2 separate regions of the Homo sapiens genome follow, and region 2 is linked to region 1. Evidence: fine-mapped expression QTL. Tissue or cell type: skeletal muscle. Region 1 holds a variant in brackets; the other region holds the start of a gene. All regions are shown on one strand. Distances are between the middles of the regions.

What was found. PIP is the estimated chance that this variant, and not a neighbour inherited with it, causes the effect.
Region 2: KDM4B starts here. The variant in region 1 is fine-mapped to the expression of KDM4B in skeletal muscle (GTEx, PIP 0.99).

What each region holds. Positions count from the first base shown.
Region 1 is chr19:5,044,666-5,052,766 of GRCh38, forward strand. KDM4B (lysine demethylase 4B) reads left to right here. Exons shown (of 23, transcript NM_015015.3): 6 at 2,811-3,004. Among named protein-coding and RNA genes, the nearest start is that of KDM4B, 80 kb to the left of the region's middle. RefSeq lists enhancers at 1,949-2,752, 4,246-4,848, 7,339-7,838. The variant GA/G (reference allele first, on the strand shown) is at 3,936.
Region 2 is chr19:4,964,669-4,972,769 of GRCh38, forward strand. It overlaps KDM4B (lysine demethylase 4B), which reads left to right and starts at 4,445. Exons shown (of 23, transcript NM_015015.3): 1 at 4,445-4,562. RefSeq lists silencers at 3,909-4,008, 4,319-4,618 and enhancers at 5,885-5,934, 6,939-7,008.

The sequences.
Region 1 (8,101 bases):
GCCTCCCGAGTAGCTGGGATTACAGTGTCACATGGAGTCATCCCACCACTCTAATGATCCCCTGAGCTCCCCCTCGTCATTCCTCCCTCTCCCCCATCCCTCTCCTGCGCCCCAGGCAACCACTGATGTCTCACTGTCTCCATAGCTCAGCCTTTTCCAGAATGCCGTGAGCTGGAATCCTACAGTCGGTAGCCTTTTCCCATTGGCCTCTTTGACCAAGCAATAGGTGTTCAAGTTTGCTCCATTTTTCATGGCTTGAGAGCTCATTTCTTTTCAGCGCTGAATAATACTCCATGGTCCGGGTGCACCACAGTGTGCCTGCTCATTCACCTATTAAAGGACCCTTCCAAGTTTGGTCAATGTGGGCAGAAGTTTTCATCTCCTTTGGGTAAATACCAAGGAGTACAGTTGCTGGACCACGTGGTGAGAGGACGTTTAGTTTTTTAAGACGCCACCAAACTGTCCTCCCGCCCACCTGTCCCACTGTGTGCTCCTAGCAGCAGCGAATGAACGTTCCCAGGGCCCCGCTTCCCCGCCCCCATCTGGAGTTGTCGGTGTTGTGCATCCTGGCCACCCTGGGAGGCGTGTTGCGCTGTCTCATTGCCATTTCAATCTGCATTCCCCCGATGGCTGCCTTCGCGGCGGGGCCCCTTTGCATGCCTGTTTGCCATCTGTGTGTTTCCTTGGTGAGCTCTCTTCATGTCTTTTGCCCAGTTTGTTGTTGTTGTTGTTGTTGTTTGAGATGGAGTCTCGCTCTGTTGCCCAGGTTGGAGTGCAGTGGCGTGATCTAGGCTCACTGCAACCTCCACTTCCTGGGTTCAATCATTTCTGTGCCTCAGCTTCCCAAGTAGCTGGGATTACATTACAGGCGCCCACCACCACACCCAGCTAATTTTCTTTCTTTTTTTTTTTTTGAGATGGAGTCTTGCTCTGTCACCAGGCTGGAACTACGGTGCCCACCACCACGCCCAGCTAATTTTTGAATTTTTAGTAGCGATGGGGTTTCACCATGTTGGCCAGGATGGTCTCAATCTCTTGACTTCGTGATCTGCCCGCCTTGGCCTCCCAAAGTGCCGGGATTTACAGGCATGAGCCACCATGTCCAGCCTAATTTTTGTATTTTTAGTAGAGACGAGGTGTTGTCATGTTGGCCAGGCTGGTCTCAAGCTCCTGACCTCAGGTGATCCACCTGCCTTGGCCTCCCAAAGTGCTGGGATTACAGGCGTGAGCTACCGCGCCTGGCCATCTTTTTCTGTTTTTTAACCATGCTGTTTGTTTTCTTCTGGTTAAATTTGAGAGTTTGCTGTGTATTTTGGTTATCAGTTGTGACTTGCAAGTATTTTCTTTCTGACTGGGGCTTGTCTTTCTCTTACGGATCCTGCCTGATTGTTTTCAAGTGAAAGTTCAGCCTCAGACTCCAGTGCATGAGAGCCTCTGGGTTGGCTGGCCTGCACTGCCTGCACTTGGCCTGTAGTGATGACCCGGGAGGGACTCTGCAGCCGCACGCAGGCTGTGCCAGCCCAGGCCGACCTGCCACAGGTGCCAGGGGAAGCTTCAGGGCTTCCTTGCCATGTGTTTGCCATGCCTAGCCTATGCACTAGCCTACTTTTACAGCGGGGGAAACAGCCCACAGCAGAGAAGCGACTTGCTGTGGTCCCAGGATGAATTTGCGCCCAGCTCAGCCTGTGCCTGGGGCCTCCCTCTGCCCCATCTGGGTCTCATCACTGCCTCCCTCCTCACCTCTTCTGGGCTCCTGCCAGGGCTCACCTTGCAAAGGAACCGCTGGTCTTGCCAAGTCTGAGGGCCGGTCGTGCAGGTGCAGGAACAGCTGGTGGGGGGTGGATTCAGGCTGTGAGAGCAGCTCACGTTCATGTGTGTCTGGGCTCCTCTCGGCCTCTCAGCAGGCCATGAGCCTCTCCGGGGACTGCAGTGACTAATGTGTATTTTATGAGCTCTTGGGACAGGACGGGGTTTGTTTGCTTGTGGCATTAAGAATAGATGTGCCTGGTGGGTGGGGATTCCGTCCTTGTTTGCCTAGTTCTGAAAACTGTCTTCGTCTCCTCGGTCAGAAGCTGTGGAAGGGCTGTCACTGGGCCTTGGCTCCGGTACCATCGCTGGGTTAGCCCCAAGTGGTGACTGTTTTTCTCCTTCCGTGTCATTGACTTAGAGGCGTGTTAATTATGCACTCCCAAACTGCAGGCTTCACAACAAGGCCTCCACCCAGCAGGAAGCACGCAGCTCAGTGGAATCTGACAGGCCCTGCCTGCCTGGTGCACGCTGGCATGTGCGATGGGGCCCTTCCTGGAAGGGCCAAGCTGGCGGTGAGCCCTTCAGAAAAGGTGTCTGGGCTGGGTATGGCGGCTCATGCCTGCAGCCCCAGCGCTTGGAGGGGCCAAAGTGGGAGGGACCATTGAGCCCAGGAGTTCGAGACCAGCCTGGGCAACAGAGTGAGACTTCATCTCTACACAGAAAAAAGTAAAAATTAGCCAGGTGTGGTTTCTCACGCCTATAGCCTATAGTCCCAGGTACTCAGGAGACTGAGGCTGGAGGATTACCTGAGCCTGGGAGGTTGAGGCTGCAGTGAGCTATGATTCTGCCACTGCACTCCAGCCTGGGCAAGAATCTCACACAGGTTAAGACCAGCCCCTGGTCTGCAGGGTATGACCGGCCCCTGGGGGGGCCGCAGATACTGGGGTGGAGGAGGATGGGCAGCGACCCCTGGGACTCTGGGGAGAATTAGCCTGCACCCCAGGGCTCGCAGGTTCTGGGGGTGGCCGGGCGGTTGCCGACGCTGCTCTGCCGCCCCACAGGACGTGGCCCAGTGGAACATCGGGAGCCTCCGGACCATCCTGGACATGGTGGAGCGCGAGTGCGGCACCATCATCGAGGGCGTGAACACGCCCTACCTGTACTTCGGCATGTGGAAGACCACCTTCGCCTGGCACACCGAGGACATGGACCTGTACAGCATCAACTACCTGCACTTTGGGGAGCCTAAGTCCTGGTGAGTGTCTGCACTGGCCCTGCCGCCGGCCGGACCGAGAGCCCCTCGGGAGGGAGTCAATCCCGGGTACACGGCTGGGCGCCGTGGCAGGGGCCCCACCAGGTGAGGCCGCAAAGGTCGGCCTATGACGGCTGGAGATCTTCCGGACCGCCTGGGGTCACCCACCAGCTTTGGGGTGGGGGATGTGCACCCCCAGAGCCGAAGCTCCCAGGCCCCTAGAGCTTGCGCTTTGTACCCCGGAGTGCCCCCCATTGAGCTGTGAGCGGCCCCAGGTGTCCCCATGGCCAGGAGCGTGGTCTTGAGCCTCCTGAGCTGCCCAGGCTGTGCTGCCTCACAGCCAAGTGGAGACGTTCCTGGTGAAGGGACACTGTCCATGCTGCCCAGAGGGGCCTGGCCAGGATGACCCTGCAGCCGCTCCCTCGCAGTCTCCGCCCTGGCACGTCTGGGCCAGGCCCTACAGTTAGGAGGGCAGGGCGTGGCGCTGCAGGCCTGTGTGCAGTGTGGTGGACCTGCCCCTGCCCGGGAGGTGCCGGGTGCAGCGTGGGCGCTGCTGTGGCGGGCTGAGTTCCAGGACCTTCTCCTGGCTCCCTGTGCACGTCGCAGCGAGGCCGTGTGGGGGTGTGTGTGAATGTGCACGTGTGCGCGCGCATGTGAGTGCGCACGTGAGTGAGTGTGAGTATGCATGCGTGTGTGTGCCCCTGTGTCACCGGGCTCTGCTTGTGACTGCGGAACCTGCTGGGTGCTCCGCGGGGCTGCCCTGCACTGTCCTCCAAGGGCCGCTAGGTGGCGCTCCCGCCCTTCCCGGGGCCGCGCTCATGCCTGGAATCTTCCCAGGCCGTCCTCGCGCTGGAGGAGGACGGAGCCTTTGCCTGGAGGGCGTGGGAGCTCCGCCTTGCCTGGCCCTTCCCTGGGTTGGAGTTGTAAGCGGGGA[GA/G]GGGGGGGGCGGGGGAGAATGCTGTACCTCTTCGTTAAAAAAAAGCACAATGAGCAGGAAGGGGCGAGCTGTGCGCATCCTCACCTGCGTCCGAAGCGCAGATGGAGCCCAAGGGAAAGGCCCTGTAGAGGACCCCGTGTGACTTGGGGCAAAGCGTGGCCTCCCAGGGGTGCGTGGGCAGCGGGACGCCCATGGTGTGACCGGGTTTGTGCCTCCATAGGGACCGTCTGCCCTGTGCAGAGAGCCCCTGTGGGGCGGGAAGTGGCGAGCAGCCGGCAAGGAGGCCCAGCCAGACAGAAGCAGGGGGGTCAGGGACATGGGAGGTGGGGGACCAGCCAGTGAGTCAGACGTGAGGACTTCAGTGCCAAGGACTGCAGTGCCAGCAGCTCGGTCTCCTGTGAGGGGCCCCGGGGGTTGCTGGCTGTCGTGGGAGCCTGGGCTGGGGGAGACCCTGGGGCTGGGGCTGCTATGGGTCAGATGCCAGGGCCGGGGGTGCCTGCTGCTAGGTCAGAGGGGCCTCTGCGGGAGGAGGCGACAGTGGCTCCCTGGAGGCGGCAGTGGGGCCCGGCCACAGGCCGTCGGAGGGACTGACAGGGATGCGCCAGGAGCCGAGGGCCTCTCCTGAGCTGGTTCATCCAGGACGCAGCCTCTGAGGGCATCCCGCACCTCTCCCCGAATGCCCCTCACTGCACCCCTCCTCTGCTTCGCCTGGTGCCGCAGGCGTCCAGCTGCCACTCCCATGTCTACCCTTCCCCATGACCCGTCGTGGGAGATGGCTCAGGGGAGACAGCTGGGGCGGGGCAGCGTTGAGTAGGCAACAGTTCTTTCGGGAAGGGAATTCCGGAAGCGCCCTGACCTTGGTCTTGGTTTTTGCCCAGGAAGGGGTGGGGATGGCAGGGGTGGGGCCTGGCATGAGGGGCCTGAGAGGAGCCACAGTGTAGGCTCTAGCTGCAGGGCATGCCCTCAACCCCCCAGAGCTCCCCACTCGCCCCCACAGTCAGCTCAGCCTGCTTAGCACGCAGGGCCCCTTCCCTGCTCTCTCACCAGGGCTGAGGCGGGGCCCCAGATGTTCCCACGACACCCCATGCCTGCGACAGGCATAGACCAGGTGACCCCAGCATTAGCCAACGTCTACTACGGGCTATCAGTCCTCCCCAGCAGATGGTAGGGGCCCTGGTCACCCCGTGTCCCAGCTCCCAGCAGGGGCCTGGCACAGAGAGGCTTGGTGACTTGCCGGAGCCTCTTGGATCCTCACTGTGTGCTGTGGGAGCTGACTACCCCTCCAGGCTGCCCTCCCAACTTGCAGGGGGGTGGGGACAAGGTAACTGGAAAGAGTGTCTGGCCTCTGGTCCCTGGGCTGGGGTTCAGGAAGCTACTCAGGCCCCTGGGAGATGCTTCCCCCCTCTCCCTTCCTCGGGCCCTTGGGGTAGGTAGGGCTCCCAGCCAAGAGATCACCAAGGCTGCGCCCCGTCTGTCTCCCTCATTACACTGTTCCGCTTGCATCTGCAGCCGCTTAATTGCAACCATTTCAGAGTATTCCAGTGGGATTTTAAAGAAAGTGTCAATGTACTCAGGTTTACAGCATTTTATTAAAGCTTTCTGGGTCTGTTGCTACTTTGGTAGCTTGATTTGTGTGTCAAAGTGACGTGAACAGCCTGGTGTCAATAACAGGCAGAAACATGCTTCAAAAGGCTGGCTTCTGTGGTGCTCTCAGGCAGCGGGGCTAAGAATATCTGAAGAGACTGAGCGCCTCAAAATCTCTTTGGCAATGCGGATTGAAACCAGAGCCAGCACCTGCAACTTCCCCCCGCCAACTTCCCGCAGCCCCTTCTGTCACCCAGGCCGGGGGGGCCGGAGTGCAGGTGGGTGTGGGGAGGGTCCGAGCTTTCCACTTGACCCTGTATTCCAGGGTCTTCCTGGGTGGGGTGGTGGCCTGGGGTCGGTGTCCTGAAGGCTGTGCCCCATAGAAGCCACTGTCCCAGGCCACACTCCTTGCCATAGATCAAGACTCTCCTGGGGCCAGGCGCGGTGGTTTGCGCCTGTAATCCCAGCACTTTGGGAGGCTGAGGCGGTTGGATCATGAGGTCAGGAAATCGAGACCATCTTGGCTAACACGGTGAAACCCCGTCTCTACTAAAAATACAAAAAATGAGCCGGGTGTGGTGGCAGGTGCCTATAATCCCAGCTACTCGGGAGGCTGAGGCAGGAGAATGGTGTGAACCCAGGAGGCGGAGCTTGCAGTGAGCGGAGATCACACCCCTGCACTCCAGCCTGGGCGACAGAGTGAGACTCCGTCTCAAAATAAATAAAAAATAAATAAATAAAAAGACCCTCCTGGAACCTGGGGTGGGGGTGGTTTAGCCGAGCTGACCCTCCAAGGCCGGTCCTGCGGCTGTTCCCCTCCAGGCATCCCCTCCCCAACCTGCACCTGTGGCAGCCCCTGCAGGGCCCACCCTCCTGAGCCGCCCGGGCCAGGCACGAAACACAGGCGTCGCCACGAGGCTGAGCGCAGTGTCGCCAGCAGCATCACATGCCACATGCCCCTAGAAGAGAGTTCCAGGCCGGGGTGGGAGGATGTTGGGTCTCGGCCAGCCCTGAGAGAGTTGCTGGTCCCAGGGCACTTCTGGGTCATTCGGATTGTGCTGTGCACCCCAAAGAAGAGAGTGGAGTGGCCATCCCCCCTCGAGGGCCCTGGCCCACGCTGCCTGGGAAAGTGCCCACTGTTCAGTCCTGTGCACCCATGTGCCGGGCTGGGACCTGGCCGAGGCTTCGGGTCCCCTTTTGCCCCCAACCCATCAGACACCCTGCAGGGCAGTGTTGGGGTGTTTAGGGGACTGTGGGCCACCGCCAAGAGCAGAAGCTTTGGCTCTCACTGCAGCAGGGAAGCCAGATGGGGGATCAGCATGTTCCTGGGGCTGCAGGGACTCCCGAGGACGTCGTGAGCTGATGGGACATGGTCAGCTGCTTGCACTGGCTCCAAGGCGGCGAGAGGAAGGCCCTCCTGAGGAGTGCCGCGGGGCCAGCGCAGGTGCGTGGCAGCCACAGAGGCCTCTGCTCAGGCTTAGGGAAGGGGGTGTCCCCCAGGGTCTCTGCAGCTCCGCTTGTCAGAAGGGGGGTCATCCTGCACCCAGGTGAAGCCCCCAAGAGCAGCGGGGCGAAGGAGCGCTTGCCCGGACTGCGACCTTGACCTGCCCATGACCCGCGGCAGTCTGGAAATCCCCCATTGCCCCAGGCAGGATGGGGGTCCCCCATGGTCTCATCTCTGGCTGTTTCCTCAGGGGATCGCTCCGCCCACCCTCTCCTGCCTCTGTTTACCTTGGACACACTCAGTCTCCGGTGCAGGTGTGGGAGGTGGGGGTCTCGGAGCTTGTGCTCCCGTGAAGGGCACGGAGCCCCCAGTTGCTCTTGGCCATCCTGGGCTGCTATGAGCCAGACCCTCCTGAGTGCTGCGGGGAGGGCTGCTGGGGAGGCCAGGGGAGAGGGGATTATCAGAAGACTCCACCAGCCTCCCTTGACCTTTAAGGAGCTGCAAGCCGAGAATTTTCCCTTTTGATTCAGCTACACCTTGAGTTTTCTCTCTGGCGTTTTCCCTCATGGGAATTTCACAGCATCTTTTCTTCTTGCTGCCAGGGAAACTTGAGTCCTAGCAGGCATAGCCGTCTTTTGCTTCATGGGTGTCCCTGGAGGTGTGCGTGCATGTGTGTGTGTGCATGGGCGCATGTGTGCACCGAGGAACCGTGCTCCAGACACTGGGGGTGGGGGTGGGGAGGGTGGGGGTGGGGAGGGTGGGTTCCAGGGCTGCAGGGGACCAGCCCGGGCTTCCTGCCCTGTGGCCGCAGGTGGGTGGAAGGCAGAGCCTGGGGTGGATGAGTCTGTCGCCCACCCAGGCCAAGCCAGGCTGTTCTTGGGGTGGAGGCTGCGGGCCTGCTCCCTTACCCCTCTGCTGCCCGCCTAACTGCCCCTCAGGACCTCCCTGGCCCACCCGCCTCCCAGCTCCATCTCCTGCTGGCAGCTCCTGCCTGGGGGCAGACACCTCCCTCCCTCCTGGGCTCCCTCAGTCTGGCTGCAGGTGGCACTGTCGGGCCCCACAATGGCCTCTGCCCTGTCCCTTGGAGTGGGACCCAGGAGTCTGGTGGGTGATGGAGCTGGCGAGCCCGTCCCAGGC
Region 2 (8,101 bases), 80 kb before region 1:
TTTGAGACAGTCTCGCTCTGTGGCCCAGGCTGGAGTGCAGTGGCAAGATCTCTGCTTACTGCAACCTCCCCCTCCCGAGTTCAAGTGATTCTTCTGCCTCGGCCTCCCAAGTAGCTGGGATTACAGGCATGCACCACCATGCCCGCCTAATTTTCATATTTTTAGTAGAGACAGGGTTTCACCATGTTGGTCAGGCTGGTCTCGAACTCCCGACCTCAGGTGATCCACTCGCCTCGGCCTCCCAAAGTGTTGGGATTACTGGTGTGAGCCACCATGCCTGGCCAGCTTAGTGGTTTTAGTATAGTCAATACAGTTATGCAGCCATCACCACCATCTAATTACAGAACTTTAACATCCACACAAAAAGAAACCTCACACCCTTCCGCAGTCTTGCCCTGTGTCCCTCCCCCAGGCCCTGCAAGCCACGAATCCTCTTTCTATCCTTATGGATTTGCCTGTCCTGGACATTTCATATAAATGGAATTATACTGTATTTTGTGTCTGGCTTCTGTCACTAAGGATGGAATTTTCGAGGTTCATCTGCATTGTAGCCTGTGTCAGAGCTTTATTCCTTTTCATGGCTGAGTAATATTCCACTGTACGGATGGGCCACCTTTCTATAATCCCCGTTTGACTTGTTTTAAGATGTAGTCTTGCTCTGTTGCCCAGGCTGGAGTGCAGTGGCATAATCTCGGCTCTACAACCTCCACCTCCTGGGTTCAAGTGATTCTCCTGCCTCAGCCTCCGGAGTAGTTGGGATTACAGGTGTGCACCACCATGCCTGGCTAATTTTTTTGTATTTTTGGTAGAGACGGTGTTTCACCATGTTGGCCAGGCTGGTCTCGAACTCCTGACCTCAAGTGATCTGCCCTCTTCGGTCTCCCAAAGTGCTGGGATTACAGGCGTGAGCCATGAAGCCCAGTCCCCAACTGCTTTTTTTTTTTTTTGGAGATAGTCTCCATGGCCCAGGCTGGAGTGCAGTGGTGTAATCTCAGCTCACTGCAGCTGCCTCCTCCTGGATTCAAGCAATTCTCGGGCTTCCCCTCTCTAGTAGATGGGACTACAGGCATGCACCACCACACCTGGCCGATTTTTGTACTTTTTGTAGAGATGGGGTTTTTGCCATGTTGGCCAGGCTGGTCTCGAACTCCCGGGCTCAAGTGATCCTCCTGCCTCAGCCTCCCAAAGTGCTGGGATTACAGCCACTGCACCTGGCCTCCCATTTCAATTTGTTAATGCAGCAGACCAACCCATAAGGGGAGGGGCATCTATTGAAGCATTGAACATTTTTGCGCTCCACACCTTGCCTGTCTAGAAAGATTGAGGGAGACCAGTCAGAAATTGAGCATTGGGCCTGCTAACTGGGGGTTCCTTGACGTCTGAAAGCCAAGCCAAGCCTCCTGGTCTTGTTTAGGGGGAGGTCCCCAAGCATTCCCTGCCCCAGTCCTTTGTGAGATTTGCATCTGACTGCAAAGGATGGAAGAAAACCAGGGCAATTAGGTGAGTGTTGCCTAAATTAATCTGCCCATTAAAATATTCTAAAGAGCATTTCCTTCCTTTTTGGAGGATGAGGACTTCTACTTATCTGACAGCAATTCTAGTGTGTTTTTAACATTTTAATATGAAGAGTTTCCAAAACTTGGAAAGAATCGGATTTGGAAAGAATCGGATGGTGAACCCTCAGACCTACCGTCTAGATTCTATGATCATGTTAAGTTTTTCTCATAAGAGATGGCATGAAAACTTTGTCTAAGCAAAATAAAGTGGAGAACCCATTTGGGTTCCTCGGTTAAAAACATTTATATTGTCTGTGAAATCTAAACACCCCCCACTGTCTCAGAGAATATACTTGGAAGTAGAACAAAAAGCCCTATGTATGTGGTACGTGGGGTGGGGACTCTTTCCCTTCATGATTGCACTTTTTTTTTTTTTTGAGACAGGGTCTCATTCTGTTGCCCAGGAGTGCAGTGGTGTGATCATGGCTCACTGCAGCCTCGACCTCCTGGGCTCAAGTGATCCTCCCTCAGCCCCCAGTGTAGCTGGGACCACAGGCATGTGCCCGCACAATCAACTCGGTTTTTATTTTTAGTAGAGAAGAGGTCTCGCTCTGTTGCCCAGGCTGGCCTGAAACTCCTGGGATCAAGTGATCCTCCCACCTTGGCCTCCCAAAGGGCTGGGATTACAGATGTGAGTCACTACACCCAGCCTGGGCAACAGCCTGTTTTTAAATTTTGTTTTTACTTTTTATTTTGAGACGGGGTTTGACTCTGTCACCCAGGCTGGAGTGCAGTGGTGTAATCAACGGCTCACTGCAGCCTCCACTTCCCCGGGCTCAGGTGATCCTTTCGCCTCAGCCCCCGAATAGCTGGGATTATAGGCGCGTGTCACCACGCCCAACTTTTGTAATTTTTTTGGTAGAGACGGAGTCTTGCTATATTGCCCAGCCTGTTCTCAAACTCGTGGGCTCAAGTGATCTGCCCATCTCAGCCTCCCAAAGTGCTGCGATTCCAGGCATGACCTGAAATTAAATCTCAACTCCATGTGGAATATATGAATATGGTCCCATAAGAATTTAAAACACCCAGAGCTTCTTAAATTCTCCTTTGACTTCTCTTTTTACCAGTGTGCAGCTTTCCTTCTCTCCCCAAGGATTAAGTTCGTTTCTTCAGTTTAGGAGTACCTTTTTCTGTGCATTGACAAGCTTGTGTGCTCTTAACCTCATGATACCGGTTTCTGTGTGTGTTTCCATATTTATTTTATTGAGTACAGGATTCTGGACCACTGTCCCTAGCTCAGCGGTTGGGAGATATTTCATGTTTGCAAACAGATCGGCCTTCTCTTTTTTCTTTTCTTTCCTTTTTTGAGACAGAGTCTCACCCTGTTGCCCAGGCTGAAGTGCAGTGATCTCGACTCACTGCAACCTCCGCCTCAGCCTCTGGAGTAGCTGGGATTACAGGCATGCGCCACCATGCCTGGCTAATTTTGTATTTGTTAATAGAGACAGGTTTTTGCCATGTTGGCCAGGCTGGTCTCGAACTCTGGACCTCAGGTGTTCCACCCGACTCGACCTCCCAAAGTGCTGGGATTACAGGTGTGAGTCGCCCGAGCCACAGCACCGGGCCTGGCCTCCTTTTCAATTGCTACATAGTAAGTATTCCAGAGTACTGATTGCTATTAAGTTACTTCTCTAATCCCCCACTGATGGATAGTTAGTGCAAAACATTGGAAACAGTTGCAGACAGCCCTGCCGCCGGCATTCTTGAATTGTGTAAGCTCCAGACCTTTTTTCTGGGTACATCACCTCCAGGAAGAACTGCTGGCTGGGTTATCGGGTGGTGGATGCACTTAGAATGTTATTAGAAAATGTCAAATTGCCCAATTTACACTCCTGCCACTCCAAATGGGGGCATGCCTCACACCCCTGCGTGGTCCAGTACACAATGAATGCTCATTTTGTGAAGTCACAGGGTCAAATCTTTCTCCGTGCCTCATCCCACTTAATCCTTGCAACATTCTCAAGAGGCGGGTAGACGGGGTGTGGCCACTACCATCATATCCATTGCACAGTTGGAAACAGACTCAGCGAGGTTACTTTGCTGGAGGTCAACCACAGTGAGGCATGGGGCCCGGCTTAGCTTTGAATCCAGGTCAGAAAGCACCAAAGCTCATTCTCTCCCATACATTTTAGGGAACTCGGGGAGAGGGACCCTAACTATTCCGAAGGCCTTGCCCCTTGGCAAAGGTTTGTTGATTGTGATGGGAATAGACCTACGGTGGCGGGGTGGAGGCTCTTGCTGCTTTACCCTATGTTCTCGGTTCTCCTCCTTTGCAAAACGGATCGCTATGTCTCCTTGCTTGGCACTTTGCAAATTGGGGAACGCTAAGCCCACATTCCGGCCACGGGTTTCGAACCTCCAGCCTGCACGTTCCCGGCCGGTGCTGATGCTGTGCTGGGTCTCACGTACTCAGCCGCCGCCTGATAACCAGGGCGGGGCCCGGAGCTTGCGGGCAGTGATTGGCACCTGCCCCAGCCTGTCCGCGCCTCGGGCTGGCCCCTCAAGCCAATACTGGCTCCTCTCTGTGCGGTCGTCGGGCGGGCCCTGAGGCTCCCTTGTCAATCCAAGGCCCAGCTGCCGTCGGGTTGGTCGCGGCAGCCTTGGCTGGCGTGCGCCCCCTCCAATGAGAACAGAGCCGGTCAGCGGGCACGTGGGTGGGCGCCGGCGTGTCCCCGCCGGTCTGCCAATGAAGAGGCGAGGCCGGCGTTTGTCCCCGCCCAATCGCGGCGCGCGGTGGGCGGGCCGTGCGGTGTTGATGGGCCCGGCGGAGGGGAGGGGCGGAGCTGTCAGCTCCGGCCAATGGGCGCTCGGGCGTGGATCCGGCAGCCAATGGCAGTCGGGGCGGAGCTGGCGCGCGGCCTTATAAGCCCCCCCGCGAGCGCTTGCGGAGGGCTCGGTCGCCAGCAACCGAGCGGGGCCCGGCCCGAGCGGGGCCTGGGGGTGCGACGCCGAGGGCGGGGGAGAGCGCGCCGCTGCTCCCGGACCGGGCCGCGCACGCCGCCTCAGGTGAGCCCACGGGGAGGCCGCCCGGCCGTGTCCGAGCGCGGACCCCGCCGCCATGGCCGCCCCCGCGTCGCGGCTCGGGGCTGCGGGCGCGCCCGGGACTCGAGGCCCAGGCCTCGGGCGCGGCCTGCTCGGGCCGGGCCTCGCGCTTTGTCCGGGCCGGCGGGGCGGTTGGGGCGTTAACCGCCCGGCCCGGGGGCGCCCGCTGGTTTTCGGGCGGGGGCGGCGGGGCCGGACAATGGCGGGGCGCGCCCAGGGGCGGGAGCGGGGGCCCCTTCCCGGGCCGGGGGCGCGCGGGGGCTGGGCACAGACGGCCCCGGCGCCCCGCACAAAAGATGACAGCGTGGGTGGCCCCGGCCGGGCCCTTTTATCACCCGGGACAAGCCTCGGCCTATTATTATTATTATTTTTGAAAGAAAGCAAGAAAAAGGAAAAAGACCCCAGCCCCTGGGTAACCCCCGCCTGCGTTTCTGGCCCTTTGGGCGCCAGGGGGGCTAAGGGGAAGCCCCCCAGCTGGACACCCAGGGATGCCCCCTAAATGCCTATCATTGCTCCTGCACTGCCCCCACCTCCGGTCAACCTGCTATGCCTTGGTAGCTTCCAAACTTGCCCCCCTGTACGTACCCGAAACCCCCACCCCGCCATAAGCATATGCAATCTGGATTTTAGAAAAAAATCATCTTGCTATGCAACGGCAGCCTCCACGAGTCTCTCCGTCCCTCCCCCTTCCAGCCTGATCGCCATCTCGAACGAAGCCCCTGCTCTAGAGAAATGAATTGAGGAGTTGCTTCCGCCGAGACCCCTTTTCTGTGTCCCCCGTGGACATCCCCCTGGGAGCTGGGGACGGACTCGCTCTGAAATCTGCTTGACCTGGGGTCTGCCAGGGCCCAGGTCTGCGCTCAGTGGTGGCCATGACAATCAGGCAGGACGGGGGACTCTGTCCACCTGGGCACGGTGGAAGGTTTTAAGGGGCATGTTTTCCGCCCCTGGGGGCAGTGGAGGCATGGACTGCTTTTGGGTGCATCCCATCTGTTTGCTTGGGGGAGGATGCTTCTGTTTTAATAATTTACCAGCACCCTGTGAGGAAGTGTTCCCCGAGTTGTGAAACTAGTGAGAAGGTGGTTCAGCTCCGTGGAGCCTAGTGATCCTGTCATATGTGAAGAGCGTCTTTTTCCATGTGTTTCTGGCTGGGGCGTGTATTCAGCAAGTTCCTTTGGGTCCCACCGGGTGCCTGCACTGTCTTGGGATCTCTGGATACTGGACTGAATTCAAGGGATCGGTGCCCTGCCCCAGTCCTCTGCCTCAATGGCCATTTATCAGAATGTCCCCGGGCTGGAGAATGCTCCTAAAAACAGCACCAGTCCTAAAGCAGGCTCATTAGACGACTCCTATGGGCTTTTATCACTGCCGTTATGGGAGCTAATGACTCCCCTAATTCTCCAATAATAGCTTCCTTATGAGCCACCAGGAGGGTTTGTCAACACACGGGGTCAGCCTTCTCCTGCAGCCCCTGCTGAAGCAGTGGGCATCCTCTCTCCGCTTTGCAGTTTATGTTTTGAAACCCTGAAGGTCGGAGCGTAAAGCCGTGGTAGAGTCAACTTCTGTCTGAGCCGAGGATTTCTGGGACTTGCCAGCCTCGTCTCCGTGTGTCTGATTGGACACCTGGCAGGTCCGGGCGCTCCCCCTCCTTGAGCCGGCGACACCAGGACGGGTCAGACTGTCCTGGCCTAGAGGAGGTCACCGCTGGGGAGGAAAAGGGGGTAACGGAGATTCTGCCGCACAGACGGGTGTCTGTGTACAGGCTGTTTTGGTGGAAGCGTCTACTGTGTCAGGAGCTGCGGGTGCCTGCGTGTGCACGTGTGTGTTTAGTTGCTGAGACCTGAAATATATATGTCTTAGTAACAATCCGTTTGCTCGCATTTTCTAACCCTTTCCTCTTTGGGGAGGGGGCTGCTAACAAGATGTTAACTGCTGGCGCTTAAAGGTATAGCTGATCAGCCACCGCACAGCACCCCGCCTGGCCTTTGTTGTACTTTTCTGTCTCGTGGAAGAGACCCTTCCTCAGCCTCCTGCCCTGTCTTCAGTCCCTGTCCCGTCCTGCAGGAGCCCTCTGGGGTGGCCAGGGGCCGTCCTCTGTGTCCTTCTCTCCCACCTGACCACTCTGCCTGTACTTTAATTCCTAATTTCTCTGTCTCCTCTGCTGGTTTCCTGCCCGTTTGTCCTATGCCCCACCCACTCCCTGATGAGCCGGGGAGGAGCCTCAGCTCTGGGGAAGCCATCTGTCCTCGGTTCCATCTGACACCTGTGGGGACGTGCCTTGGGGTCATGCGTTCACCTGGTCTGGGGCTGCTAGGTTTCCAGTGCCGAGTGCCATGCCGGGACAGGTTGGGAGGAGTCCCTGGCTCCTGTGGGTTTAGAGTGTAGTGGGGGAAAGGGTGAGCTGGCTGCCCAGGGCCTGGTCACAGCTGGAATGGTGGTGTGCAGTCCGCTGCCCTCGGGCCCAGCTCAGGGAGCAGGCAGGAGGAGGCGAGGCTGTTGAGGGCCTGAGGTGCATTTGTAGGTGGCTTTGTTCCCTGGATCGGGGAGCGGAATTGGGGGTTCAGAGCTGGGTGACCTTGACCCAGTCACTTGCTCAGTGACAAAGCAGATCGGGGGCACTAAATCTTTCGGAGCCCACTGGGCAGGAGGGGACGGAGAGCAGATGAACAGGGTGGGGGCTCGGGGCGGGGGGAGCTCCGCAGGCCTGCACTGGTCACCGCCATGACAGATCGGCCGTCCTCATCCACAGCCTCACCCTAGGCTCCTGGCTCAGCTCCAGGGACCTGCCATGAGGCAGCTCGATGGGGTCTTCAGATGCCACAGCCCTCCCCCTTCCTGCCCCAGGGGTCTCTGTTCCTGGCTTAGGATGCCGGACAGAAGAGCAGGGGCCCAGCCTGGGCTCCGTTCTCATCTGGTGGTCTTGACGACGTCTCTGGATCTCTGCCCTCTGTCCCATGCCCCACACAGGCTTCAGAGTTGGAGAGACCTGGATTCAGATCCCTCCTCTGAGGCAGTCACTTCCCCTCTCTGGGCCTTGCTTTCTTCTCTGTAAAATGGGTGTAATGGGAACACCTCCCTCCCAGGTGGTTGTGAGGATCAAAGCGGGTAAAAGGCGCTGAAGCTTGCAGGGTGCCAGGAGCTCTGAGTTCGGAGCCGGTTTATTACACAGCAAGGCCCTCTGCCCTGTCAGGGTCTCCCCACCTCTGCCCTATCCACGTTCTGGGCTGGGACATTCTGTGGCGGGGCTGTCCTGGGCACCGTAGGGTGAGTGTGAACAATATCCCTGACCACCACCCACCAGATGCTAGTAGCACCCTGTCCCCTAAGCGGTAGCAACCAAAAATGTCCCCTGGGAAGCACTGTCAACCCCGCAGTGAGAACCTTGGACTTGGCCTTCAGCCCTGCAGTAGCTCATGGTGTGCTGTGACCGTGATGGGCCTCAGCTCCCTTTCTTTCCTCCCCACTCACCCTTTAGCAGTGAGTGACTCCTATTTGCAAACTGT